2 separate regions of the Homo sapiens genome follow, and region 1 is linked to region 2. The links come from fine-mapping of genetic effects on gene expression. Tissue or cell type: whole blood. Region 2 holds a variant in brackets; the other region holds the start of a gene. All regions are shown on one strand. Distances are from middle to middle.

The links. PIP is the estimated chance that this variant, and not a neighbour inherited with it, causes the effect.
Region 1: SCN4A starts here. The variant in region 2 is the best candidate, but not a certain one, in a credible set for the expression of SCN4A in whole blood (TOPMed, PIP 0.67).

What each region holds. Positions count from the first base shown.
Region 1 is chr17:63,968,752-63,976,925 of GRCh38, forward strand. It overlaps SCN4A (sodium voltage-gated channel alpha subunit 4), which reads right to left and starts at 4,167. Exons shown (of 24, transcript NM_000334.4): 1 at 3,818-4,167; 2 at 3,601-3,719; 3 at 3,385-3,474; 4 at 2,971-3,099; 5 at 2,411-2,502. The coding sequence starts at 4,090. RefSeq lists an enhancer at 1-50.
Region 2 is chr17:63,942,435-63,950,608 of GRCh38, forward strand. SCN4A (sodium voltage-gated channel alpha subunit 4) reads right to left here. Exons shown (of 24, transcript NM_000334.4): 15 at 6,959-7,094; 16 at 6,177-6,331; 17 at 5,456-5,629; 18 at 4,611-4,733; 19 at 2,926-3,204; 20 at 2,573-2,626; 21 at 2,239-2,376; 22 at 1,312-1,416; 23 at 392-662. Among named protein-coding and RNA genes, the nearest start is that of CD79B, 14 kb to the left of the region's middle. RefSeq lists an insulator at 3,419-8,174 and enhancers at 4,054-4,627, 6,265-6,846, 6,847-7,426. The variant C/T (reference allele first, on the strand shown) is at 4,509.

The DNA of each region.
Region 1 (8,174 bases), 26 kb after region 2:
TTCTAGATTCTGCTCTTGGAGAGTCATTATGTAGTTGATCCTATCAAAGGCTTTGAAAAGTCCTGCAGAAATAAACAAAAACTTTATTTGTATTTATGTATTTATTTAGAGAGAGTCTCATTCTGTCACCCAGGCTGGAATGCAGTGGCGTGATCTTGGCTCACTGCAACCTCTGCCTCCTGGGTTCAAGTGATTCTCCTGCCTCAGCCTCCCAAGTAGCTGGGATTACAGGTGCATGCCACCACACCCAGCTCATTTTTTTGGTACTTTTAGTAGGGATGAGGTTTCGCTATGTTGGACAGGCTGGTCTCGAACTCCTGGCCTCAAGTAATCAGCCTGCCTCAGCCTCCCAAAATGCTGGGATTACAGGCATGAGCCACCTCACCTGGCCTATTAAACAAAAACTTTAATCCCACGTATCCTTAACATATTTGACCACAGAACCCTTTTCCTTAAAATGCCTAGTAGCACCCGAGGAACAGCAGAAGCTCTAGACTGAACTTGAAACATCATTATATTCTTTAGACAGACAAAGGCATAAACGATGCTGAAATAATCCCAGGGGCAGGTTCCCATCACCTGTGGAAGAGCCGTAACTTCTTCCTTGGGCCTAATCGTAGTGCCTCTTGCGTTAATATGACTTCATTTCCTTTTCTTATCCTGATATGGAAAACAAATGCTCGGCAGCCTCCTTATAAAAGCCCTCCTGCGCCCCGAGGATGCTGGCAGCTGGCACAGAGGAAAGGCAATGCCGTCTTGGCTCAGTGGCCAATGTACAGTGTGGAATTTGGGAAGTGCTTCCTCTCCTGGGTCTCACACCTTCCTCGGCTGCAGTCAGAGGGCTTTAGACTAGAAGATAGCTCAGGTACTTTCTTTCTTACTTTCTTTTCTTTTCTTTTCTTTTTTTTTTGAGATAGAGTCTCGCTCTGTCGCCCAGGCTGGAGTGCAGTGGTGTGATCTCGGCTCACTGCAACTTCTGCCTCCTCGATTCAAGTGATTCTCCTGCTCAGCCTCCCAGGTAGCTGGGATTACAGGCACATGCCACCACGCCCAGCTAATTTTTGTATTTTGAGTAGAGACGGGGTTTCACCACGTTGGCCAGGCTGGTCTCAGAGTCCTGACCCCAAGTGATTCACCTGTCTCGGCCTCCCAAAGTGCTGGGATTACAGGTATGGGCCACCACACCTGGCCTCAGGTACTTTCTCATATTAGGATTTAACAATTTTCCCTCTTCCCAGAGCCTGATCTCTATCCTTTTTCTTTCTCTCCTTTACTGGGAGAGAATCTCCAGTTTCTCCACATGCTCTTTTGCAGGTCTGAATGTTCGGATTCTATTGATTTCATGCTTGTTGATGCATTACTTTGGAATTGCTCTGACCTTATTGCTCAGCAGGTGCCTGGTGTGTTCCTAATTGAGCTCTCAGAGCTTGGACTTTTCCTCATGGAGCCTTTTTGTGTCTCTCTCTTCTCTGCTCTGTCTGCTTATTTTATTGAGCACACACGTGTATATCACAAACCATGGGCCAGGGGCTGTGAGGGCCTTACAGATATTAAGGCATTTAATCCTTACAACAATCCAAGGAGTGGTACTATGAGTCTCCATATGCCACAGATAAGGAAACTGAGACATGGACAGGGCGAGGCACTTGCCCAAAGTTAAAGTTAGGAAGTGGTAAAGGTGAGAATTGAACCCAGGCAGTCAGGCTCCAGAATCTGTGCTTTTTTCTTTTGAGACAGAGTCTTGTTCTTTTTCCCAGGCTGGAGTGCAGTGGCAAAATTACAGCTCATAGCAGGCTTGATCTCCTGGGCTCAAACTATCCTCCCGCCTTAGCCTCCCAAGTAGCTGGGACTATAGGAGAGCATAACCAGGCCCAGCTAATTTGTTTTCTTTTTTTTTTTTGAGATGGAATCTCACTGTGTTGCCTAGGCTGGAGTGCAGTGGCGTGATCTCGGCTGACTGCCACCTCTGTTTCCCAGGTTCAAGTGATTCTCCTGCCTCAGCCTCCTGAGTAGATGGGACTACAGGTGCACACCACCATGCCAGGCTAATTTTTGTATTTTTAGTAGAGACAGGGTTTTGTCTTGTTGGCCAGGCTGGTCTCAAACTCCTGACCTTAGTTGATCCACTTGCCTTGGCCTCCCAAAGTGCTGGGATTATAGGCGTGAGCCACCATGCCCAGCTGAGTCTGTGCTCTTAACCAACTTGCCATGCTGCCTCTCAAACGCCCATCCTTCCATGTAGGACCCCATCTGCCCTCTGGTCACGTGGGCCCCTGTATGTCCAGGCTTTGCTGTGAGTTCTACAAAAACACCAGCCTGGGAGTGTTGTGACACTGAGTCAGGTTCCAGGCCTGCACATGGTACGGGGGTCTCTCAGCTCAGGCAGAGGGTCCCTGCACCTCCCCAGTACCTGGGATGACCGTGATGGTTTTGAGGGCCCGCAGCACCCGGAAGGTCCTCAGGGCTGAGATGTTGCCCAAGTCCACAAACTCTGTCAGGTACCTGGGTAGGGGGTGGAGGGGGGTGGGGACTGTCAGAGCCTGGGGTGGGTGGTAGGACAGAAATCAGGGCTCCTCCAGGCCTGGGATGAGGATTCCCAAGAAATTGGGGGTACCACAGGGTCTGGGGGGCAGGGCAGACACCCCCAAAGCTCCTCTGGGAGCCCAAGGGTTGGGAAGGACAGTGCAGGAGCTCTGGGGGAGTGGGGATGGCAAAGATAGCCCGGCTCACCCAGCAGGTGAGGACCCATGGGTCTGTGGGTCAGGGCTGCCTCATGTGATTATCAGGAGTCCATCAGGAGAGTGCTGAGCCAGACCCTGAGAATGGCAGCTTCTAGAATTGTGCAGCTCCCCATCTGCACAACTGACCGATGTCCCCTGCAGCCCTCAGCCCAGGCAGCTTCCCTCTTTAAGGCCTGGCCCCCTCCCCTCACCCACCCCAGCCTCAGGATGTCCTGGGGCCCCTGCTCACGCCATCATGATGACACTGAAGTCCAGCCAGTTCCAGGGGTCCCGGAGGAATGTGAAGTCGTCGACACAGAAGCCTCGGGCCAGTATCTTGATGAGGGACTCAAAGGTGTAGATCCCTGTGAAGGTGTACCTGGGGGGGAGAGGGCCGGCCGGGACAGGCATGTCACCTGGGTAGGGGTCAGTGTGGCAACGACAGACCCCCAGAAGGGAGGGACACAGAAATGAAATATGCCACTCAGGTGGCTAAGGACACTAGCGAGTGATAGCATGGCCACCCCAGGGACTCAAGGTGTGGATGAGGGTCACAATGACAGTGTGTCTCCCTGAAAGACAAGAGCAGCACCACACAGAGGTGCAAACACCTGAGATGGGCTGTGTCCCAGGGCTGGGGAGCTCAGGGAGCAGGGAGACTTACTCCACATTCTTGGACCAGGGAGGCGGGTCACTCATGGTCATGAATACGCAGTTGGTCAAGATGGTGATCATGATGAACATGCTGAACAGCGTGGGGCAGGGTCAAGGAAAGTGAGGAAGCAGCTAGGATGGGAGGTGATAGAGGGTCTCCTGGGCCACAGCACCCCATCTCGCCCATCCCTAACCCCTCCCGCCTCTCCCATCTTGGGCAGGATATGCATGGATGAGCACCTTGATGGCCCCGCGCCTGACTACGCTGAAGGGGCTCAGCAGGTAGAGAGCAGGTGTGGCGGAGAAGCGGAAGATGGCCTTGCCCTTGTTGAGTACGATGAAGGTCTAAGGTGGGAGAGAGGCTGTGAGACCCAGGGACAGACAGACAGGCAGACAGATGGATGGATGGCAGACAGACAGAGGAAGCCTTCCCAGGCCCAGACCTTCTTATTGCTGTAGTAGGGATCCAGGTCCTCCAGGGGGATGCCGATGACCTCCGGCGGGGGGTCTCCGTAGATCATGGGTAGGTTCTTGCCAGCCTCCAAGTCACTTCGTGGCTTCCGTTCGGGCTCCTCAATCTCCATCTGCTTATTCCGCTGCAGCCGGGCCTCCTCCTCCACCGCCCGCTGTTCTATGGCTGCCAGTGACTCCCGGGTGAAGGGGCGCAAGCACTCAGGGCCCAGAGGCACCAGGGTGCACAGAGATGGTCTGGCCATCCTCGCATCCTGGGCTCAGAGACCAGAAGGGTGGTGGGTGGCCTGGGGAGCTGCAGTGCGCAGCCCCGGGGTGCTGGGCGGCCGCCCCTCCCTGGGCGGGCCGTCCACTCCTCACCTCCTGCTTGCCCAGTGGCCGAGCCGGGGAGGTGGGCGTGCAGACTCTATCAGGACTGGGAGATGTGCCTGCAAGGTGCTGCTGCTGCACAGGTGCTGGGCACAGAGCATCACCCCTGGCCCCCCCACCACACTTTCCCCAGAAGTGGCAGCGGCTGCCCTCAGGACCGACGGCAAACCAACCAGATTCTTTGTGGCCTTGGGACTTGGGGTCAACACCCCAGTGCCTTCGACTGCCTCCTGGGCCCAAGCTCCGGGAACTGTGTGGCTTCAGCCTAATGGGACAGAGAGAGAACCACAGCTGGCTGTGCTCAGGCGACCTCTGGATAGGCCAGGATGAGGGGCCTGGTTGGGGGGTTAGATCAAAGTGGGACTGGCACAGGGACTTCACCCTGAGGGCCGACGTGGATCCTGATATTGGCCACCTGGAGATGTAGGTGGAGACCATGAAGGTGGCAGCCAGGCTCTGTGCAAAAAGGTTGCTGTGATTGATTAGTGATGTCTGCCAGGGGCGCAAGGAGGAAGACCGTGGTGCCTCTGCCTGTGTTTGCCATCCCTGGCCTGGAGGGAAGGGAAAAGAAAGATGGGGGTGGGTGTGGATTCCTCTTTCCTGATCTTTGGGGTACTTGGTGTTGGGCTGGGAGAGGGAAGAAGAAAGGGCCCTGGGCCCGGCAGGGGTCTCCTAGCAGTTCCCTCCCACAGCCCTGGGGGCTCTAGCCCACTGGGCAGGCAGGGTGAACTGGGAGAGGAACATTGCATCTGGAGAGCTGCAGGTGCTAACGTGGAAGAGAAGACGTACAGGGAAGGTCACAGGGACAAGGAGATGGACAACTCCAATGGTGGGGGCAGGGCTAGAGCTCCTGGGGACTGCTTTTGGCTGGTGGTCCCAGCACAAGCTGGATTGGGGGAAGGGGCATCCACAAGGAGCCTTTGATGCCTGTGAGCATTGTGTGGTCTGGGCCCCACCTGGCCCCTCTCCCCTTCTGCCCAGCCCTCCAGAGCCTATTCCTGTGGAAGGGAAGGGGGATCACTTATTGCAAATGGCCCTGGGGGAATGACCACATCAGCAGGCAGTTGCAGTGAGACCCCTGCAGACCAGCTGCAGGCAGCCACTGCCAGACCCACATGGACAGACCTGGAGCCACCCCTGCACCACAGGGACCTGGACAGACCCCTAGAGACCCCCAAAGCCACACCTGAGGGTGGACCTCTCCCAGTGGGCCTTGACCCTTGCAGCAGCGCCCCTGCCCTGGTCAGCACGGGCGCTTCTCAGGCTTGCTCAACAGGTGGGGAGGGTGGCCAGGGAGAGGCCAGAGCCACTGGGCAGAGCTGGCCACGCCCTTGTGCCTGGCTCCCAGCTGCTCCTTACAGCACCCAGGGAGTCGTGTTTCCACGGGGATGACTCTGCTTATTCCTGCCAACCCTGCCCTCAGCTGCTCACTGGCCCCTGTCGTGAGCGTGGGCGTGCATGTGCACACACTTGCACACACAGGCACATGCACGCACACCCGGCCTGGAGCCACCCCACATGCAGACCTTCCCAGTTGCATCTCACAGCTCTGTCATATACCTTGCCACCTTCCTCCCCATCACCCACTCCACGTACACCCCCACATGCTGCTTGTCACTACACAGAAGGCGCCAACCAGCCAGATGGCCTTGAAGAGACCCCAGGGCTGCTGTGCACCCACCCAGTCTGCAGTCCCTGCTGTGATGATCCTCCTGTCCTGATACTGCTCACTCTTTTCATTACACGAGCCCAAGTAGGGCCACAAAAGCCCACAGACACATAGTCTGGCTCCCAACCCCAGCACTCGAGGAAATGACTCTCACCTGAGTCACCAGAGCTCCCCAGGGGACAGATCCAGTGTTTTCTTCCCCGCTGGCCCTCCTGAGCTTCCCACACCGCACACCGCCTTTCTTCTTGGGAGCAGGACATCACCTGTGCGTCCGGCCACTCTCCCCAGCTCTGCTCTGGGACCTGCCCCTTCCCTGCCCCTGGAAGATGCTTCTTCTCTGGGGCCTGCTCTGCAGCCTGTTTTCTTTGCACAGCGTACACCTCTCCCTTCAAAATGTTCACTTCCTCCTAATTTCCTCTTCTCCTACTCCTCCATTACCCCTGAGGTCTGGCTGTTTTGTAATGTGAGGGGAGGAATGTCCTCACTGGTTCCACTTGCTGAAGCTGGCTTTGGTTGGTGGCTGCCCGAAGCATCATGGTGGTAGATCTGGCCAGTTCCACACCCTACTGATGCTCCCTCTCCAGTGTCACTGCCCTCTCCACCCTCCACCCCTCACCTGTTCTGTTCAAATAACCTCCCCGCGTGGTGACATGCTCCTGTAGTCCCAGCTACGAAGGCAGGAGGATCCCTTAAGCTCAGGAGTTCGAGGCTGCAGTGAGCCATGATGGTGCCACTGTCCTCCAGCCTGGGTGACAGAGTGAGACCCTGTCTCAAAAACCAACCAAAGAAACACCTCCCACCAGGCTCTCCCCTAGACTGCCATAAATATTTGTAAAGTCACAAATTTCACCCCCTGCTTAAATCTTCAATGGCTTTCCACTGCTTAGGAGTACGTCCTAAGCCCTACCCAGGGCTCCCAAGGCCCTCCATGATCAGATCCCTGCCTCATTGCCTACCCTTCCCGCATCCTCTGGCCATGCTACCTCCATTTTCACAAATGGGCCAAGCTGTTTTCCACCCCCCTGCCCTAACCCCCATGCCTTTGCTTGTGGTTTGCTCTCCTCCCAGAGCACCCATCTTCTTTGTCTCCCTGGAGAGCTTCCATTCATCTTTCTAGACTCAACCCACACAAGAACCACCTCCTCCAGGAAGCCCTCCCTGGGTACCCTGGCTGGGTGGAACTCTCCCCTTGTTTGTGTCACCAGCTCAATAAAAGTTTATCAAATGAATAAGTGAGTGAATCACAGGGACACTCTACCTTAGCTCTTTTCTCCTTTAAGCATACCCTGAACCTAAATCATAACCAGAAACCATATCTCCTCTGAAATCACCACTTCAAACTCTTCCTTTGCCCCTGCCACCTTCTCAGCTCCTGGCTCAGGGGCCCGGTTGCTATAATCTTTGGGCACTTTCAGTTCTTTGACCCTGCACTTTCTCCCTTTCCACCTGCTTCTGACTTCATGTCCCTCCTCATCTAGGCTTACTTAGAAGATCATCATTCTGGTCCCTCCTCCACAGCTCCCAGGGAGAGATCCCAGAAGGAGGGATCTCTCTCCTTCTATCACACAGTCCTGGGGAACCCCTAACTGCATGTCCCCAGCTCTGGTTTTCCAAAGTCAGCCCCGAGCTGGAGAAATGTGGCTGGGGAAATGGTATGACTAGGCTGAGCTCACCGTAAATTCATGGTCACATATTCTGGGTTTGTCCTCAATCCTGCCAGCCCTGTAGTGTGGATTTTTCTGGTAGGCTCACTTTTCCACTTTTTGAAAACAACTATTTCATGCCTTCTCCTCTTTCCTCAGACCTCCGCGCTCCTCCCCATGAGCCTCCCAGCTGATGGTCTTCCCTGAGGAAGGAAGAACCACTACACACACACTGTCAAATCCACAGAACCATCTCCCCATCCCACCCCGTCTTCCTCTATCCTGTTAGAATAATAATAAGAAGCAAGGGTCAGGCTTTCCTGGGGCTCAGGACCCCAGCCCCTCTTGCTTCTCAAAGACCTCTCCAGGTGCCCTCTCTCTACTGCCCATCCACCTCTCCCCATCTGTGAACAGACTCTAGTGTCCCCCACTTTAAAAACAATGGCAGTGGTGACAAAACTATTCTCCTGGCCCCACACCTCCCTGCATCTATTGCCCTATTTTTCTTTCCTCTTCACAGTAAAACTTCTTGGAAAGTGTCTACACCAGCTGTCTTGACTTCCTTACCTTTCATTCTCTCTCCAATCCATTCCAACCTGGCTTCCGTTTCCCCTTCAACTGAAACTACTTTTGTCAAGTCACTAACAC
Region 2 (8,174 bases):
AACAACAGGTGAGATAACACCTGTCAAGCGCACAGCACAGTTGATAATAAATGGCAGCTACTTTCTATCATAAGCACACGCATGACTGTGCACTTCTCAGTGCACACAGACATGGAACCATCTTTTACACTTTTCGCTCAGTATGTGGGCACCTGAGTGCACGTCTTCTGGTCAGTTGTGTGTCCTGAGGTGCATCCATGTGTGCGCGGGTGACGATCTGCCTGTGTGCACACCATGTGCCTTTGTGCATTGAGAGTGAATGGCAGGCACGCACAGGCATGTGTCTGGGTGAGCGTGTGAGGGTGCAGGGGCAGGTGTGTCCGTGTGAGGATGGGTCTTCCCGAGTGCCTCAGCTCAGTGCTGCCCTGCCGGTCCAGCCCGCCCCGCTCACCCACAATGGACAGGATGACGACCACGAAGTCAAAGATGTTCCAGCCAACGGTGAAGTAGTACTGGCGCAGGGCGAGCATCTTGAGCACGCACTCCCCTGTGAAGATGATGATGAAGATCATGTTGATGTTGTACAGGATGTCCACCTTGAGCTGGCTCTGGTTGTCTGTCTCCACCATCATGGTGACCATGTTGAGGCAGATGAGGATCATGATGGTGATGTCGAAGGCCTGCTTCGTCACGAGGTCATACACCATGCCCTGGATCTTGTTCTGCAGCATGGGTGGGAGTGGATGTGGAGGAGTTGGGGTGGCCAGGCCCAGACAGGACATGGACAGGCAGGAGGCACAGGATGGCACCACAGCATGACAGAGATGACAGAGATGACAGAGAGAGAGAGAGAGAGAGAGAGAAAGGAGGTGTTGGGGGTTGTGGTGGAGTCAGCCAGGGGAGGAGGGGTGACCCATCAGATCATGACAGGTCTGGGACCAGGTCATTTTATGGGGTTCATGGTCCTCCCTTCAAGATCCCCCAGATGCTCCTCCCCTTTCTTCCAAAGTCATTGCTCCTGGGTAGGGTGTCTGGACATCCTCCTCCTTCCACTTGTGGGAGCCCTTGCCCCAGGGGCCACTGGGGTCCCAGGTGGGAGGTAGGTGGGCACTGAGGAGCTTCGTGGGACCAAGTGAGGGTAAAGCACTCACTAGAGTTTCATGGACAGCCTCTGTGCATATGGTGTCTCTGTGGCACTACAAAGAGGCGTCCCTCCCTGCAGGTAGACCAAGTCCCCTGCCCCTGGGGTGGGCCTAACCTCACCCAGGGACACAGCCTGGTGGGTGGAAGGCAGGAAACCTTTTACCCCCATCAGTCCCCTAGGCAGGAGCCTGGCAGCACACACAGGACAGGGGGCCCAGAGGTCTGTACCTGGGGCCGGGGAATTGGCTTCTGAGGCTTCTTGGAGCCAAGCTTCTTCATGGCGTTATAGTATTTCTTCTGTTCCTCCGTCATAAAGATGTCTTTCCCCCCTAAGTATAGTGGGATAGGGCTTGTCAGGTTGAGGTGCAGTTCCCCTTCCTGCCTCCAGGACCACCCCCACCTCAGTGGGGCACCTCACCTTTAAGGCAGCCCCCGCCCCTGTTGATCAGCCTGGAGGAAGCGGGAGGGTCAGAGATGGAGGGACAAGGGGAGAATGCGGGACCGAGGAGAAGGGAGGGAAGGGGAGTGGGGATCAATGCTGTCTTGCAGCCTGTTTCTGGCTACTTTTCATCAACATCTCGCTGAGCCCTAGAGTAACCCACAAGGCAGGTTGTAGCAGCCTCGTCTTTTTTTTTGTTGTTGAGATGGAGTCTCGCTCTGTCACCAGGCTGGAGTGCAGTGGCGCGATCTTGGCCCACTGCAACCTCCATCTCCTGGGTTTAAGCGATTCTCCTGCCTCAGCCTCCTGAGTAGCTGGGATTACAGATGCCTGCCACCACGCCTGGCTAATTTCTTTTTTTAATTTTTTTTGTATTTTTAGTATAGACAGGGTTTTACCACGTTAGCCAGGGTGGTCTCGAACTCCTGACCTTGTGATCCGCCCGCCTCGGCCTCCCAAAGTGCTGGGATTACAAGCATGAGCCACCGTGCCTGGCCCAGCAGTCTCATTTTACAGATAAGGACACCGAGGTTCATGGAGGCCAAGCCACTTGTTCAAGGTGGCCTGGTGGGACTGGGACCCAAGCTAGCTGCCTGAACCAACAACCTGGTAGGTGCTCAGGCAGCGTTTGTGGGTTTGTGCAATGGAGAGTGGACAAAGGAGGCAGGAGGGAGGCCCAGCACCGGGAGGGCCCGAGGGGCTGGGCTGATACTCATCTTCTTCTTCTGCTGGTTGAAGTTGTCAATGATGACGCCAATGAAGAGGTTGAGGGTGAAGAAGGAGCCAAAGATGATGAAGATGACAAAGTAGAGGTACATGTAGAGGTTCACCTCGTACTGCGGCTGCTCCTCCTTCTGTGGGAGCCACAGGGTGGGACGGCGTGGGTTTGCACGCTGGCTTCTCCCTGCCCCCCACAGCCCTGAGGGCAGGACCCATCCACCCCCAGGGCTGCCAAGTCTCGGGGACAGAACGTGCTGCCAAGTCTCCCTCCTGTCTTGAGTCCTCTTCCCTGGCTCGCTCACCAGCCACATCTCAGCGACCCCGACTCACCTCCCGGGAGTCCACGGCTGCATACATGATGTCCATCCAACCCTTGAAGGTGGCCTGAGAGAGTGTGGTTGGGGAGTGAGCCGGGGGGCTGCTCCCTGCTTTCATCATCCATGAGTTTCCCTCCCCCACCCAACCTGGTCCTCCCCTGCCAGAGGCCGCCTGCCAGAGCCCCACTGGGCTAGCATCAAATAAAGACCAGAGAGGTCTAGACACTGCCTGGGGATCCCACAGCATTGGAAGCAGGGTGGGCGGTCCCCTAACCAGGAGTGACACTGGGGTTGGGTACAACGAGAGGACCGGGGTGGGGGGCACCTCCATCCAGGTTCCCGGCAGGGGTGGTGGGTCACACTCACCACCTGCAGGAGGGAGAGGTAGCCCAGACCCACGTTGTCGTAGTTGACCTTGACATTGAGCCAGCGGACCTGGCCTGTGTGCATGAGGCTCTCGCACTCAGACTTGTTGTTGACCTCGGAGATGTCGAACCTCTCAGAGGTGGTGGTGTTGATGCAGTAGTAGAACTTGCCGGCAAACAGGTTGACACCCATGATGCTGAAGATCAGCCAGAAGATGAGGCAGACAAGCAGCACATTCATGATGGAGGGGATGGCGCCTAGGAGGGCGTTCACCACCACCTGGGGGCCAGGGGGTCCATTGCCAGTGCCTCTCCCAGCCTCTGAGAGAGGGCTCCACATCTCTACGCCACCCAGGGGACCAGGCAGAGCTGGGCATTGTCAATTAGGGAGGGCTTCCTAGAGGAGGGCCGACCTGCTGGGCTGTGTGTGTGCAGGTTGGGGGTGGTAAGGGGGAGGGGGAGGGAGCTGCAGGCCTGGTGGTCAAGAGGGCTCTCTGCTTGACTGGAGCCATCAGCCCAGAGTAGGGGTGCTGGGTTTCTCTGGAAGCAGCCTGGTCACAGGTCACCAGGCAGGAGACAAACACTCTTTGCTCAGCCCCCATAGGAAACTCAGCTCACGTGACCCAGCCCCTGCTCATGGGTTTTCAGCCCCAGAGCCCCAGACACAGGCACAGAAAAGAGGGCACCAGGGTCTTTGAAGCAGCAGGAGCTCTGGGACAGAAGCCCCATCCCCACCAGCCCTAGTCACACAGCCCACCTGACCACTGCAGACTGGGCTGGATCTGACACCCCTCTCTTTTTAAGGAGGAGCCATTTCATGACCTCTAGAGTGGGTGGCACAAGCCTGGTGTGCCCAGGGGAGCTCTGTTCCTGGTTGGGGCACTGACCAGCTGCATGGCCACAGGCAGCTTGTTTCCCCTCAACGGGAGGGCTCCCTGGCTCTGGGGGGTCAGAGGGCCCAGCATTCGGCTGGCCTCTTGCAGGGACAGGAAGGGGCCGCTTGGGGGGGCTCGCCATGGCCTCTAGATTTGCAGAAATTTGTCCCGCTGGAGCAGGTCTTGCTCCCAGCAGATCTCTCTTCCTGGGGAAGTCCCATTTTTCTTGCCCCCCCCCCCACCCCGCCGCAACCCTGTGTTTACCTGCCACTTCCGCTCTCCAGGGCCTGAGTGGATCTTCCCCAAACTGACCCCAAGCTCAAGGGCATGGCCCCAACCGTGACGCCAAGCTCATCAGTGGGGGGTGAGGGGAAGGCTCAGAGCCAGGGTGCAGGCACCTTGTTTCAAAGCCCTGGGTGGCTCAGTCTGAGGCTGGGGAGGGCCACCCATAAACCCACTCATAAACCACCCATAAACACCACATAAACCTGCCTTCCTTCCTCCTCTTCCCTGGCCGTGGGGCCCTCCTGGGTGCTTCTGCAGTCTCTGCTCCCCTCAAGTAGTGGCAGAGGTAAGCTAAGGGCGGGCTGGATCGGGGGCTGAGAGTGGGAATGGGGCAGGCAGAAGATGGCCTGCGGGGAGGACAGCTAGGGGAGGTGGGGGCCAGACCTGGCCTCAGGCAGGGCCGTGGGTCCAAGCTCTCTGCTTC[C/T]CTCTGGTGGTGGTTGGAGTATAGACATGCACCCTCCACCCTGCAGTGAAGGTGGCCGGTCCCCCATCCCCAGCCCACCCCAGAGGCCCCTTCAGCACCCACCCTCATGCCCTCGAATCGGGACAGTGCCCTCAGGGGACGCAGGGCCCGCAGTGTCCGCAGGGATTTGATGGGTCCCAGCTCCGAGTAGCCCAGCCAGTTGGCCACCAAGCTGATGATGGAGACCTGCAGGGGAGGGGTGAGGGGATCAGTGCGTGCAAGGCCCCCAGCCTCCCCTCAAGCCCAGGCCACGGGGGTCTTCCTGGACTCACAGCTCCTGGTTGTCTCCCTTAGATCCCCTCCCTAGTGGGTGGTCCTGTCCGGTGGGAAGAGCAGCCCTGGGACCTGTCCCAGTACCTGTAGGAGCCTGGCACCACCTCAGTGATGTCATCAACCAACTGGGGATGACTGTGAGTAGGAGGGATGGTACCCGACTCCTTCGGGGAGGCCTGTGAGCCCATCTAAGAGGCTAAGAAAATCCTCCATTCCTGGCCGGGCATGGTGGCTCACACCTGTAATCCCAGCACTTTGGGAGGCCAAGGTAGGAGGATTGCTTGAGCCCAGGAGTTCAAGACCAGCCTGGGCAACATAGCAAGATCCCATCTTAAAAATAAATAAATAAAATGTATGAAGTAAGAAACTCCTCCACTCCTATTGGCAGGGATGGTAAGTAGCCCTCCTGCCTGCTGTCTTCCCCCAAGGCCTCCTTTCCCTGAGGAGAAGGGAAGGCCTCCCAGTCCCTAACCCCTCCCTGGGCAGCTCTGTCTGAGAAGGGCAGCACTGATTGAGGGTCTGACTCTGGGGGTGGCCTCGGGCAGGTCCTGCCCTTCAGGGCGTGGGCTTCCTGAGGTCCCCGCCACACTGACAGCCTCTGGATGTAGCTACGGGGCCAGCGTGGGGGGACTCACATCCACGATGAGGAAGTCGAGCCAGCACCAGGCGTTGGTGAAGTACACCTTAAAGCCGTAGGCCACCCATTTGAGCAGCATCTCCATGATGAAGATGTAGGTGAAGACCTTGTCGGCATATTCTAGGATGGTGCGAATGACTCGCCGCTGCTCAATGTAGATGTCCTCGAAGGCCTGGGGGCACCAGCACCACCAGGGTGGCTGGGGTCCAGCAGGCTGGGGTGGCAGCCAGGTCCCCTGCCCTGCTCTATGCTGCTGGTTCCCGGGGGTCTGCCGTGGGGGCCCAGCCCAAGGGACAGGCTGTCCGCATCTCCTGGACTCCCACCACCCATCATGGGGATGAGAGCGTTTCCCAGTGGGGAGAATCCCTCAGCCCCCCTTCTCCAAGCCCAACAACAGCAAATTGCCATCATCTGCTGGGCAGGTCCACAGTGACACATCTTCAGTCCTGCGCCCCCAGTTCCCAGGGGTCTCCTGCCTCCTTATCAGCAGAGAGTGCACAAAAGTCAGCACCCACGTAATAAGGGAGGCACCTCTGCCATGTTAGAAAGTCAGCACATCCTATAACCTATCCCGGAGGCACAGCGAGTTCCTTTAGGATTCTCAGGGTTTGGGACTGACCAGAGCATGGCCCTTCCTGTGTGTGGAGACAGGGAGCCCCAAGAGGACCTGCTGTGGGCCTGGCCCCTGCCCCTGACCCGTGCTCCCAGGCAGTGCCTACCAGAGCCCCACTGCTGAGCAGGATCATGAAGACAATGAAGGTCTCGAACCAGTTGTGCTCGACAATCTTGAAGCAGGCCCTGCGCAGAGTCCACCACTTCTTCCCACGGCCCTGGGAGATGTCCACGTAGAGGCAGGGCCAGCGCTGCACGCAGGCTGATGGGGTGAGGGGGGACAGGGACAGGCACCACATCATGGGCCTGGGGTTGCCTTGGGGTGCACAGTCAGCGCCCTCCCATGGCATCCCAGGATGCCCCTCTCCAGCTCCCAGACCCAGGGCCCCCACCTCCTCCCTCACCCAGCTCCATCTGGCTCACATGGGGGACTCAGGACCTCCCTTCACAGCTGGATCCAACATGCGTCAATGGCTGCTGGGGATGGGCATGCAGAGGAAAGGCCTCCTGGCCCCCAGCCCCAGTGCTGCCCCACCCCCCACCTCGCCCAGGCGGTCTCCATCCTGCACAGCCCAGCAAGCTCTATGGACAAGGACATTTCTCCAGTGCCATGTCCTGAAGGCCTTGCTCCCTGAAGATGGAGGGGAGGATCTCAGGAGCTGACACCCACACTCCTGCACGTTGGCTCCAAGCTAGGTCTGCACCAAGGGCTCTGCATGGATCTTGCACCACAGTTCTGGGCATGCACTGCCACCACCCCTAGACACGTGAGGCACGGGGATGGCCAGGCAGCCCCAGGTCCGTGTGCTTTTGGTCCTGGTGTAGCCTGCCCCTTGCAGGGGCTGCAGGCCTGGGGGAGACACCCAGATGAGGTGAGGGGTGCCCTCACCCTCAGTGAAGCACTCCTCAGGCTGCTCCCCCTCGGGGTTCTCCTCTGCCTGCTCCTCAGGGTCCTCCTCGGGGGGCTTGTAGTCAGCTGTGCTGCAGACGGACGAGTTCCCATCATAGAGAGGCTGCGGCGGCTTCTGCGGAGGCCACAGGGTCACATGACATCTGGGTCCCTGAGAGACCCCCTCATCCTCCTACCAGATGGGGCAGGATGGGAGACCAGAAGGGAAGGGAAGAAGAGAGGGAGGAGCAAACTCATCCATTCATTCATTCATCCAGCCCTGGATGGTCGAGGAACCACGGGGACGTAGGTGGCCCTGGTCATGCCCGCATGACACTTATATAAGGAGTGGGGCGGGGCTGATGCCTGGGAAGGGACGGTAAGGGCATGAGGACACATGCGAAGGCCTCAGATAAGGGAGGAGGCGGGGACCCCGGCCCGAGTGGGGGGTCTGGGAGGCATGGGGGGCCTGAAGGTAGCTCTGAGGGGGCAGGGGTATGAAAAGGGGTCAGGATGGAGCCAGGCTATCACAGCCCTCAGAACATGGGCGTGTGGTGCCCCTAGCGTCTGAGCCTTCCCACCCGCAGGGTCTGTTTGGCTGAGGAATCCAGAAAGGGTGGAAAATGTTCCCCAGCCAAAGCCTCCATCCAGTGCCAAGGGAACCTGATCAGTGTTGGGAGCGGGAGTGGGGGAGGCGGGTGCTCCAGCCGGGCCAGGCTTCCTCCCACCTCCTCCTGCTGGGCCAGGCCAGCTTCCCGGCCCCAGACTCCACCCGGCAGGGGACCCCTTCAAGGCTGAGGGTGAGGCCTCTGAAGAGAAGGAAGAAGAGGGCAACTTGGGGGGCAGCTCTGTATCCAGAGTGGTGACCAGAAAACCACCATGGCCGGGGTGGGGGTCCTTGTTTTCATTAGACTAAAAGGGAAACTGAGGCACAGAGTGTTAGGTCAGCCAGGGCATCCACTGAGTTGCTTGCCCCGATTGTGCACTCAACTCCCTAAATCTCCCTTGGAGTTGTGCTCGCCCTCCTTGAACAAGTCCCCAGGCCCCGGCCCCGGCCCCGGGGAGCCTGGGACTTTGGTGCTCTCCAGCTCCCCCGCCACCTGAGTGCCTCATACCGAGGTCTGTGCCACAGTTGCCTGGGTATTTATAGCTCACAGGCACTCGCTTCCTGGTAAGCCAGCATATTTGGGGGGAATAAGGAGTCAAAAGCTTTCAG